Linked DNA regions of Homo sapiens. The protein of the gene in region 2 binds, or shares a complex with, the protein of the main gene of each other region. Each region holds a gene or a part of one and is shown on either strand. Other genes may lie near its edges. The genes, in order: THOC1, THOC5 and THOC7.

Region 1 (3,749 bases), on a different chromosome or scaffold from region 2:
TGCCACTAACAGGCTGAGTAATTTGGGGCCTGTTCCTTTATCTCTTTGTGCTTCATTTTCGTCACCAGTTAAATAAGAGGGTTTTTGTAGATTTTTACTACCAGCAGCAGCTACAGTGGCATCACCTAGGAAGCTGGTAGAAATGCAAAATCTCAGGCTCCCTTCCACACTTACTGAACAAGAATCTGCATTTCACAAGAAGCTTGAGAAACACTGAACTAGATGATCTCCAATTTCATGGTCCTTTTCAGGGCTAGTATGATTTTTTTTTTTTTTTTTGAGATGGAGTCTCCCTCTGTTGCCCAGGTGTTGTGCACTGGCATGATCTTGGCTCACTGCAACCTCCGCTGTCCGGGTTCAAGCGATTCTCCTGCCTCAGCCTCCCAAGTAGATGGGATTACAGCGCCCACCACCACGCCTGGCTAATTTTCGTATTTTTAGTAGAGACGGGGCTTTGCCATGTTGGCCAGGCTGGCCTTGAACTCTTGACCTCAGGTGATCCGCCCGCCTCGGCCTCCCGAAGTACTGCATTTACAGGCGTGAGCCACTGCGCCCGGCCGCCAATATGATCTTGGATAGTCCTAACAGTTACTCTTAGCAGGCTTTCAAAGCACCAGAGATTGCAGCAAAACGCACACAAAGAAAATGATTATGATGACATACACAAAATATAATCCATTTAAAAAAAACCTCACACTGTGTGTGTGTGTATATATATATTATACGTATACGTATATATATGTATATATATATATATATAACCCTGCAAACAAGAAAACTACTTACTACAAAGGATGAATTTTTCTTTCACACAATTTTCATCCTGGCATCCCTATAACTACCAAAACACAGCCGAATATCTGAGAAATGTTGGTGCAAATGCTAGAGACGAATAGAGTCAGGCAACTTAAAAGTGTTCTTCATACTTACGTTGCTGTGACGAGCAACATAAAAAGAACAGAGTGTCTAAAGTCAGAAAAACCACTGAAGTCACAACTTTTTGGGGGGTGTCAGCTTCTACCTCATGTACCAGGAATAACCAACTTAGCCTACTTCACAGTGTTACTCTAATAGTTAAATGAGAAAGTGATCTGTCAAGTGTTTCCCAAATGCTCAAAACCACCCTTCCACATTGAGCAAGAATAAAATAGCATCTGGTTACCCTTCCCAAGGTGATCTATCTGCCTTTTCCCGCTTAGGATCTCATCGATCGCTTAGGAGTTAGACACGGTGGGTTAAGGGGTGGTGAAGAGACGGCGGGAACAAGCACTTGGTAGCTCAGAAGGCTAGGGCGGGAGCCAGGTCTTTGGACTGAAACCACTCCCACCCTCCCCCTTCAGCAGCTCCCCTTCCCCTTCTCGAGACACCTGCCCCACTAAACGAGCTGAGAGGATGGACCCAACCAGCAGTAGTCTGCAGGTGGGCACTCCAAGCGGGGAGCCGAGGCGCCCAGCACGCAGTCCGGGGACCCGCTGGAGGGTGGGCGGAGGCGGACGGCCCAGCCCACAAAGAAGAGGCGGGTAGTGCGTCTTTCCCTACCCCTCAACCTCCGACGGGGCCCGGAGCGGACGCTGAGGCGGACACACCTCTGTCTCACTTTACCCCAGGGCAAAATTCGAGTAATTTCAGGGAGAAGAGGACAAAGCATAGCGCCGGGTCAGGCCTGCACCCTCCCCTCTACAGCTCACCGTAAACCGCGTCCGCGCTTCGGGCAAACTGAAGAGCGGCGGCGTCGGAGACATCTTCTCGGCTGCGCGTGCCCGCCACTGCGCTGCGGCGCCTGCCGATGACGTCAAGCCAGGAGCAACGAGACTGCGGTCTCTCTGAGCCCGGCTAGAGTGGCCTGTGAACACCGGTCGGGCGAGCTGGCAGTTGGGAGTTTCCCTAGCGACTCAGTTCGGGTGGGCGTTGGGCGCCTGAGTCAGCCAAACAGCCTACTCGGGGTTCTTGGGTAGCCTTTGGGGTGAGGGGACTTGGGCGGCCTTGGTCTGTAAGCTCTGCGTTCCCGGGCGTGGAAGAGACTGGCCGCGCACATGCGTTTCTGTGGTTTTCCTGGTTTGGGGAAAGCGGGTAAATGGTGGCTGGTTGCGGCTAACTGGGCCGCGCTAAAAGGTAACCCAAGGCAGGTGGATTACCTGGGGAAACAGCTGGAGCAGTGGTCCTGGGCCGCCAGTCCGCGGTCATCCCGGGAGCTTAAGATGCGGAGTGGTGATAGGCTCCGGATGTATGAGCCCTGTGGCTCAAGGGCGCTGTTCTCTCTGCTCCGAAATAGAAATAATACCTGTCTCACAGAGCTGTTGAAAAGCTCCACTGAAATAATGACCGCAAGTGTGAACTGTAAAGCAATGTAAGTAGTATTTATTATTAAAAGGTCTCTACTGAAAGAAAGAGACCTAGGAGGAATGCAGTGCCCGGCGCTGATTGGAAAACGGGTGGCGCTGCGTCCTGGGCCGAGGCTTCCCTAGCGAAAACCTTGTCTCCCTCCATTTCGTCCCTTGCCTGCCTTCCCAGGAGAGACGTGGCCGATAGAAGCCGAGTGGCAGTAACTCTAAGTTGGAGTTACACGGTGGAGAAGGAAGCACTGACTCAGACTCGGGTAACTTCCTCTTATTCCCTCACACGTGTATCTTGTTCCCTTCTTCGAAGTCTGTAAATTTAAAATCCTAAGCCCCCCAACAACTGAACAGACCCCCGTGAGGCCAAGGGGACACCAGCAAAATCTTAACAACTGAGTTCCCAGTCATAACGGGATGGGAGGTCAGACGGACCTGGTTATACCCTCTCCCTTTTGTGATTTAGAGGAGATAGCTGACTGGCCATAAAGTTAAAATAGAGGCCAGGCGCGGTGGCTTACGCCTGTAATCCCAGCACTTTGGGACGCCGAAGCAGGTGGGTCACCTGAGGTCAGGAGTGGATCACCTGAGGTATGGCAAACATGGTGAAACGCTGTCTCTACTAAAAATACAAAAATTAGCCGGGCGTGGTGGCACGCACCTGTAATCCCAGCTACTCAGGAGGCCGAGGCAGGAGAATGGTTTGAACCCGGCAGGCGGAGGTTGCAGTGAGCGGAGATCGTGCCATTGCACTCCAGCCTGGGCGACAAGAGTGAAACTCTGTTTCAAAAAAAAAAACGGAGATGATAGGACTGACGGAATTGACTCCATGGCAATAAGATACCAAAGTATAAACAGGACCTAAGCCCATGCCAAGCAAGGGTTAAAAGTCATGCATCCCTACGCTTGAAAAATAAACTATGTTCTCACTATGCTTCAAGGTTTTTCTTTAGCAGCTAAACAAGCGCTGGCCTCACAGTATTAAAACAATTTGCAGTTCATCGACCACCAGACACTAACAACCCTCTCCCACCAGCCGTAACTACAGCTTTTATTGATTTCAGTTACTTTCTCCTGATAAGAAGGTCACTGACCATGGACTTGTTCTGGCCAATTTGTAGTGATTGCATGCTTACGTAACTTCCTGAAAAGATATTTTGATGTATAGGACCAAACTGTAAATACATTTAAATGTTAAGTCTCCACCCCAAAGTGAACATGGATTGTCTGTTAAACATGCATATTTGTTTAATATGCATGTGTCAAGACCACTTTCATGAATATTCATAGCCGCTCCTCTAACTTGTTGAATATGTATGTTTAGCCAACCAGTTAAGCATAAAGTTCCTACTCCAACTCCTCCTCTGAAGTGTCTGTATGTGGTCTTGGCTGGAGGCATGCTTCCCAGCCTGCAGA
Region 2 (3,528 bases):
AGGACCTCTGAGCTAGAGAGTACCTGCCTTTGGAATTCAAAGGACTGATGTGGACTGAGGGTAGCGGTGGTGATTTAACAGCCACCAAAGGTACCATTCTCTTCTCCTTGCTAGGCTCAGGTTTCTTTTCTTTTTCTGAATGGGGACTCACTATATTACACAGGCTGGTCTTGAACTCCTGGGCTCAAGCAATCCTCCTGCCTCAGCCTTCTGAATGGCTTGGATTATAGGCATGAGCCACCACGCCCAGCAAGGATCAGGTTTTCATCCGTAAAATGAACGGCCCTGCTAGGGGCAGGAATTTATTACTTAGCTCTTACTCTTAAAATCCTTATCCCTGGGATACTCAGTGGTCGGCAGAGAGACCTGGAGGAATAGCTTTTATACTGGAGGTCTGCATTATCCATGGAAAATCAGTAAAAGTCCACTTAGGGGGAATATGCTTATGATGGGAACCAAGCTTAACAGCATGTTGTGGGGGGATAAAGTTTCATCAGGACAATCACAAAAAATAAAATGTGTTTCCTCTTGGAGTTAGCAAACTATATCTGCAACTATGTAATAATTCTCAAATATTTTTACATTTCTACATCTTTTTTTTTTTTTCCAAGACGGAGTCTTGCTCTGTTGTCCAGATGGTGCAGTGGCACCATCTCGGCTCAGTGCAACCTCCGCCTCGGGGATTCAAGCAATTCTCCTGCCTCAGCCTCCCGAGTGGCTGGGATTACAGGCGCGCACCACCATGCCCAGCTAATTTTTGTATTTTTAGTAGAGACGGGGTTTCACCATGTTGGCCAGGCTGGTCTTGAACTCCTGATCTCAGGTGATCCGCCCACCAGCCTCCCAAAGTACTGATATTAAAGGCGTAAGCCACTGTGCCCAGCCCATCTTATTTTTTAAAATGAAGAATGGAGTACTGATGGTGGGGTCAAGATACACTTTTTGACAAAACTGTCCAAGAATAGTCTATGCCATCCTTTACTTTGACTTGCAGGAGTATTACAAAGGATGTAATTTTATGAACATTTTAAAGGTTGTTACCTATCTTCCCAAGACTTCTCTTAATCAAATAATTATATTTTGAGGCACTTTTGTCATTACCTTAAAGACTCTACTCAGGCCGGGTGTGGTGGCTCATGCCTATAATCCTAGCACTTTGGGAGGCCGAGGTGGGAGGATCATTTGAGCCCAGGAGTTTGAGACCAGCCTGGGAAAAATAGTGGGATCCCGCCTCTACAAAAAATTTAAAAATTAGCCAGAAATGGTGGCACACACCTGTGGTCCCAGCTACTTGGGAGGCTGAGGCAGGAGGATCACTTGAACCCAGGAGAGGTTGAGGCGGCAGTGAGCTGTGTTCGTGCCACTGCACTCCAGCCTGGACAACAGAGCAAGACCCTGTCTCAATAAAAAAAAAATATTCTCCTCAAATGTTACCTGGTCTCACTGTCCTGTATCTCTGTATGTGATTGATTCTCCAACACCACTCTCGCCATCTCCATGAAATCCTGTAAGACTTAGAATTACTCTCTGTGAAGTACAGTTGATCTCTGAACAATAGTTTGGACTCTGTGGGTCTATTATATGCAGATTTCTTTTTTTAAAATTTTTTAGAGATAGGGACTCGCATTGTTTCCCAGGCTGGAGTACAGTACAGGCACGATGAATAGCTCACTGCTACCTTGAACTCCTGGACTCCAGTCATCCGCCCACCTCAGCCTTCTGAGTAACTGGGACTATTGGTGCATACCACCACACCTGGCTGATTTTTAAATTTTTTGTAGATACAGGGTCTCTCACTACGTTGCCCAGGCTGGACCTGAACTCCTGGCCTCAAGGGATCCTCCCGCCTTAGCTTTCCAAAGTACTAGGATTACAGTCATGAGTCCCTGCACAGATTTTGTTCAATAAAAATAACAGTGGTGCCTGCCTCCCCCTCCACCTCCCCCACTTTTTCTGCCTCTGCCATCCCTGAGACACCAAGACCAACCCCTCCTCTTCCTTAGACTATTCAACCCTGAGACAGTATGTGAAGACCTTTATGGTGATCCACTTCTACTTAATAGTAGATATATATTTTCTTCCTTATGGCTTTCTTATTTATTTATTTTTGAGACGGAGTCTCACTCTCGCCCAAGCCGGAGCGCAGGAGCGTGATCTTGGCTTACTGCAACCTCTGCCTCATGGGTTCAAGTAATTCTGCCTCAGCCTCCTGAGTAACTGGGACTACAGGCATGCGCCACCACGCTTGGCTAATTTCCATGTTTTTAGTAGAGACAGGGTTTCACCATGTCGGCCAGGCTGGTCTCAAACTCCTGACCTCAAGTGATCCACCCGCCTTGGCCTCCCAAAGTGCTGGGATTACAGACGTGAGCCACTGCACTCAGGCCCCCTTGTGACTTTCCTTATAACATTTTCTTTTCTCTAGTTTACTGTATTGTAAGAATACAGTGTATAAGATACAAAATATATACTGAAAATATGTACTGACTATGTTAGCAGTAAGTAACTACTAATAGCATACTACTGGTCAACAGCAGGCTATTAGTTAAGTTTTTAGGGAGTCAAAAGTTATACACGGATTTTTCAACTGTGCAGGGCAGGGGGTGTTGGTGCCCCTAACCCCTGAGTTGTTCAAGGATCAACTGAGTTTGTCTTCTGTTTGCACTGCACTGTCAGACATTTATAACATCCAACGATCAGAGACAATTTGTCCATCGGCAACCCTGACAGGACTAATGGGAAGAGCGGGTGGGGAGGGAAGAGTTTTGCTTTTTGTGCTCTGCTGCCTTTGGCTTCTCCTACCACCTCTTAACAGCAGGAACTTGGGATAATAAATACAAGATCATGAGGACCTCACCCCGCAAAGCACAAATAGGGTGTGCGTAGACAAGAGGTGAGCATCTCTCTGCAGAATTGGAATCTTTTTCCACTCTGCTTTTATTGGCTGCTGAGAAAAAGTCTCTCTACAAATGCTTTTTCACACTGTGTCACAGCTCCCACCTGCCCTTCCAGACTGCAAAGCCACCTTGCCAGGAACCACAGACAAAGGCCACTGGTCAGGTGACGCTTTTTAATTGGCTGGTGTCTTTGGAGAATATCAAGAGTCACATGTGGGCCAGAGCAGAAAGCAGAAGCCCAGTGCTCAGGGTGAGGCCTTGGGGGAAACAACGGTCTGCGCGGGAGATCAGCGATGGCTGAAGAATCCCTGAGGATGGTTGTATTTAAATGGCTTCATCCTGCTAGGACCCCTAGAGAAATAGGAGAACGGAGTTGTTAATAACACACCTTCTAGGCTGATAAAATAAATTATGGTTCATTCACACAAGGGAAAAAGAAGAGGCAGAGTTACATGACACAGAATGTTGTTGAGAAAAGCATACGGCAGAACAACATATAAGGTGCGATACTATTTTTGTAAAAATGTCTTTTTGTGCTTGCAAATGAGTGAACACAAACTTGGAAAGGCCCTCACTGACAGTGGCACTTCGGGGACATAGCTTTAGGCACCCTCACTTTTTAGGATTGTTC
Region 3 (3,749 bases), on a different chromosome or scaffold from region 2:
GTAGTTGACCTTCTGCCTACTAGCCATATTATTTTATGCATATTGCTGCTGTCACCCTTAATACGTTATTTATATGCCTTATGCTAGAAAACATTTAAGGCAGTTCACTGTAATGAGAAAATATAAAAATTAAACGGATTAGAAAACAAGACAAAAAGAACATTGAGATTAGGAAAAATAAAGGGAAGTCAGAAGTGGGGTGATCCTCAAAATGCAGGAGGATAAAGTCTAGTACATTAATTAACCAAGCTGTAAGTGACCTGTTTCTCCAGTAGGCCATTCTGAGAGGCAGGACCTCGTCTGCTCTGTGATCTAGTGTTCATGAGAGAAGGCAATCTTAGATGCCCAGGAAAAGCACTTTTTTTTTCTGATTTGAACTAGAGGAAAAGTTTATCATTGAGGTCTTTATAAATGAAAGCCAGTGTCATATCCTTAACCTCTTTTCAGCACTGAAGATCATAGAGCTGTTTTGTAGCACATCCCTTGCTAGGTAAAAGAAGGCTAAATCACAATTTAGAAAGACATTCTAAAGCCAGTAGAGGCTGGGTGTGGTAGCTCACACCTGTAATCAATCTTAGCACTTTGGGATGCTAAGGCAGGAGGATCACGTGAGCCCAGGAGTTTGCGACCATCCTAAGCAACACAGCAAGACATGATCTATACTACAGAATTTTTCAAATTAGCCAGGCGTGTGTGGTGGTGTGCACCTGTAGTCTCAGCTACTCATCTCTACTAAAAATTTTCTTAAATTAGCCAGGTGGAGTGGAACACACCTGTAGGTAGTCCCAGCTACTCAGGAGGCTGAGGCAGGAGGATCACTTGAGCCCAGGAGTTTGAGGTTGCAACGAGCCATGATTGCACCACTGCACTCCAGCCTGTCAACAGTGCTAGACCCTGTCTAAAAATAAATAAATAAAATCAATGGACAATGTGGTTTAGGTGGGTAGTGGGTAGCTCTGCTGATCTGGCTTGATTCAAATCAGGGTTTTTTGATTGAATATCTAGACCATAGAGGAAAGACAAACTACAACTTCTTCAGACAATCCTCTATAAACATGGTTTTTGTCAGCTGAGCTTTTGAAAAAATCAAGCTGAAATGAGTGGTATGTGTGATCCGTCAACAAGTATTTATTGCATACCTTCTAGGCACAATGCGAGGTCCTGGCTACTTTGCAGTGAACTAGACAGAGGAGGGCCCTGGCCCCTGCTTTGGGGAAAGAAGCCATAGTGTGCAATCAAATAAGTAAATAAGATAATTTCTGAAAAGGAATGTAATTAAGTTCTGAGAATGAACTTGATGGAATGAGGACAGAGAGTAATGGGGGAGGGCAGTGATACCTGACAGGTTCAACCACATGAAGAGCCCAGGAAAGTATTCCAGATAGAGACAACAACTAGTGCAAAGGCCCGAGGTGAAAACAAGCTCTGCACCCTTTAGAGGAAATAAGGAAAGCCACTGGGCTGGATCTAGGGACAGGACTGCATCCAGGTGGGCCAAGAGGAGTACGATGCAAAAGGAGGTAAAAGGGAGCTCAGGAGGAGCCTTGCAGGCTTTGGAAAGGAGACTGAATTGTCCTTTGTGGGCATTTAGAAATGATAGGAGGATTGTAAGCAGGAGAGTTAGTGATCCAATTCATCTTTTAGATCATTCTGAGTTGCATAAAAAATGGATTCTAGGAAGGCAAGAATGGAAACAGGGAGTCCAATGCAAAATATTCCAGATGAGAGAAATGTGGGCTTGGATTAGAGCGATGTTAGTGTGGAAGATAGAAGTGGATGCTCTTGATATCTCATTCATCCTCCTGGAAAGCTCTTGGAGGAGTACCAGTACCTGTCCATGGAGCTTACATAAGAGCCAATGTCTTTTACAAATTTGATGTGCCTGTATCACTGTCCCTTCATGTAATCCATTCCTCTGGGTCTGCGTATCCAGTTGGACTGGGAGCTCTTGAAGAAGCAGCCCTTTATTTCCTGCACTCAGTTTGAGGAACTGCCCTGCTTTAGAGTAGCTATAGCTACTAGACTGGATATTTTCACCACTACTGTCATGTTATAAGTGAAAAAGTAGAGGTCTTTGGAAGTTAGTGACTTGCAGTCACACAGGTAGTTTGTGACAAAGCCATTTTCTCTCCTTCCCTTGTTGCCAACTCTAGCAGTCTGGCTAGCTGAAAAACAGTGTGGATGTTGTCACTGTTAATTTAAACTATGTTAACTGTATTTTGTATGTGTTAATTTAAAGGATGCTAAATATTGTTAGTACCCTGATAGAAATCATTTCAGAAGCACTTTTTGCACTACAGAGAACATTAGGTGATATATTGATATGCCAGAGCAACAGATGAGAGATGGAGAAAGGGGTTGGGGTGGAATGTGGCTCTACATTCTATTTAATAAAGCTTGCTGGTTTTGACGGTAGCTTTTTTTTTTAACTTAGAAAAATGTAATGCATGAATATGTACTTGTTGCAATGTGAAATAATGGTTTTTAATATGCCTACGAATAATATGACAGAATAATGGAGCTGCATTATGACTTTCTAATAATGTAATTGTATATATTTTTCTGTGAATGCAGAGGTGAGTAGTAACTCATCTGTGAAAGGAAGATAATAGTACACACTTTGTAGAGTTGTTTCAAGGATGAAACATGATAATATATGTAAAGCACTTTGAAGTTGAGTGACCATTTAATTTATTGTGTAAACCAGGACACTTTTCAGAGTGAAAAGAAACAAATGGGTTGTGTGGTCACCAACTAGGGTGGTATAAATGCTGTGCAAGTGTTTGCTGCTGCTGTTATTCCTATTTCAATTGCTGATCCAATGTTAATTAGACATTTGTGGGCACAGGGTTCTTTTGTTTTTGGGTTTTTTTTTCATTAGTGCCATTGCATTTGCCCACTTTCTTCCATCTTCTGTGGCCCCAACACAGGGATAACTGCTGCAGTTCAACTATGAAATGATGTTTCTTTAGCCAAGATAATTGGTTTTTCAAAGCAAGATGGACATTTCACCTTGACTTTATTAGCACTATACTACTCTAAACATTTAAATAGAGAGAAAAGACAAAGGACCTCAACATGATGTTTTGCATTTATTTTCCTTTTAAAATTTTAAATTTAATTTTGGTGCACGTAATTTACCTTGGCATCAGCAATTTATGTAGACCAGTCAGAAGTATCTTAGGAGAGGTTAATATCTACATGGAGGAATCAAACCATCTTATTGTTCCTTCCACCCACCTTTTATGTGTCTCCTTAATATTGTTGACCTTAAAAATTGTTTTAATGGCTTTGAGCTTTTTGAAAGGAGGGACCAGGTGTTATTTTACCATAAGGAATGTAACACAATGGGCTAATATGTGTGATTCATCTTAATAACATGAGCTGTGGTGGTCTAACGATAAATCTTACAGGAATCTGCATGAACATTTTTTTTACATGGCCTTAGTCTCTCTTCTTGTTCATTTAAAGTAGGTCAAATCAAGCCAGTTTTCTTTGTTGTTGTTAACATATCATAGCTTTATTCAGTAACGGAGTAGAATTTTTAATACAGAGAAAATGAAGTACCTGAGAATGATAAATAAGTTTACCACCCAGTTAACCACTGTTACTACTTCATAAAAAAAGTACTACATGTCAGTAAATTCAAGAAGAAATGCACAATATGAAAAATGAAAACCTTCCCCTCTTTACCTTCCGTAATAATTCCTCTCCCAGAATGATTTTTAATGCCTCTAAAAGGTAAAAGT

What was found.
Region 1: the proteins of THOC5 (region 2) and THOC1 are in contact, whole or in part, in a cryo-EM structure (PDB 7APK), measured with the Homo sapiens proteins. Residues at the interface, in NP_001002877.1 of Homo sapiens: Tyr52, Arg113, Lys120, Asp124, His127, Leu128, Gln131, Asn132, Leu134, Tyr135, Glu136, Met138, His139, Thr145, Lys146, Glu149; in NP_005122.2 of Homo sapiens: Glu60, Arg145, Arg146, Leu147, Ser148, Ser150, Gln151, Lys285, Met286, Leu289, Val296, Tyr297, Phe298, Leu302, Ser304, Leu307, Leu310, Gln311, Ser313, Asp314.
Region 3: the proteins of THOC5 (region 2) and THOC7 are in contact, whole or in part, in a cryo-EM structure (PDB 7APK), measured with the Homo sapiens proteins. Residues at the interface, in NP_001002877.1 of Homo sapiens: Pro48, Asp51, Tyr52, Tyr55, Cys59, Leu62, Gln63, Met66, Ala67, Gln70, Phe95, Lys99, Leu101, Asn102, Ala105, His106, Arg108, Leu109, Gly112, Arg113, Gln115, Thr116, Ala119, Lys120, Val123, Tyr126, His127, Leu130, Leu133, Glu136; in NP_079351.2 of Homo sapiens: Ala21, Asp23, Ile27, Leu30, Val31, Phe34, Tyr50, Met53, Leu54, Leu57, Cys60, Glu61, Met64, Gly65, Thr67, Leu68, Val70, Tyr71, Asn74, Met78, Tyr81, Ile84, Tyr85, Ile88, Glu89, Ser91, Ile92, Ala95, His96, Lys98.

What each region holds. Positions count from the first base shown.
Region 1 is NC_000018.10:266,278-270,026, forward strand, and holds the start of THOC1 (THO complex subunit 1), read right to left. Parts: upstream 1,771-3,749; 5' UTR 1,743-1,770; coding exon 1,689-1,742; intron 1-1,688. UniProt on the Homo sapiens protein: Component of the THO subcomplex of the TREX complex which is thought to couple mRNA transcription, processing and nuclear export, and which specifically associates with spliced mRNA and not with unspliced pre-mRNA.
Region 2 is NC_000022.11:29,505,273-29,508,800, forward strand, and holds the end of THOC5 (THO complex subunit 5), read right to left. Parts: intron 3,249-3,528; coding exon 3,185-3,248; 3' UTR 607-3,184; downstream 1-606. UniProt on the Homo sapiens protein: Component of the THO subcomplex of the TREX complex which is thought to couple mRNA transcription, processing and nuclear export, and which specifically associates with spliced mRNA and not with unspliced pre-mRNA.
Region 3 is NC_000003.12:63,857,140-63,860,888, reverse strand, and holds part of THOC7 (THO complex subunit 7), read left to right. Parts: exon of another isoform or gene 1-244; intron 245-3,749. UniProt on the Homo sapiens protein: Component of the THO subcomplex of the TREX complex which is thought to couple mRNA transcription, processing and nuclear export, and which specifically associates with spliced mRNA and not with unspliced pre-mRNA.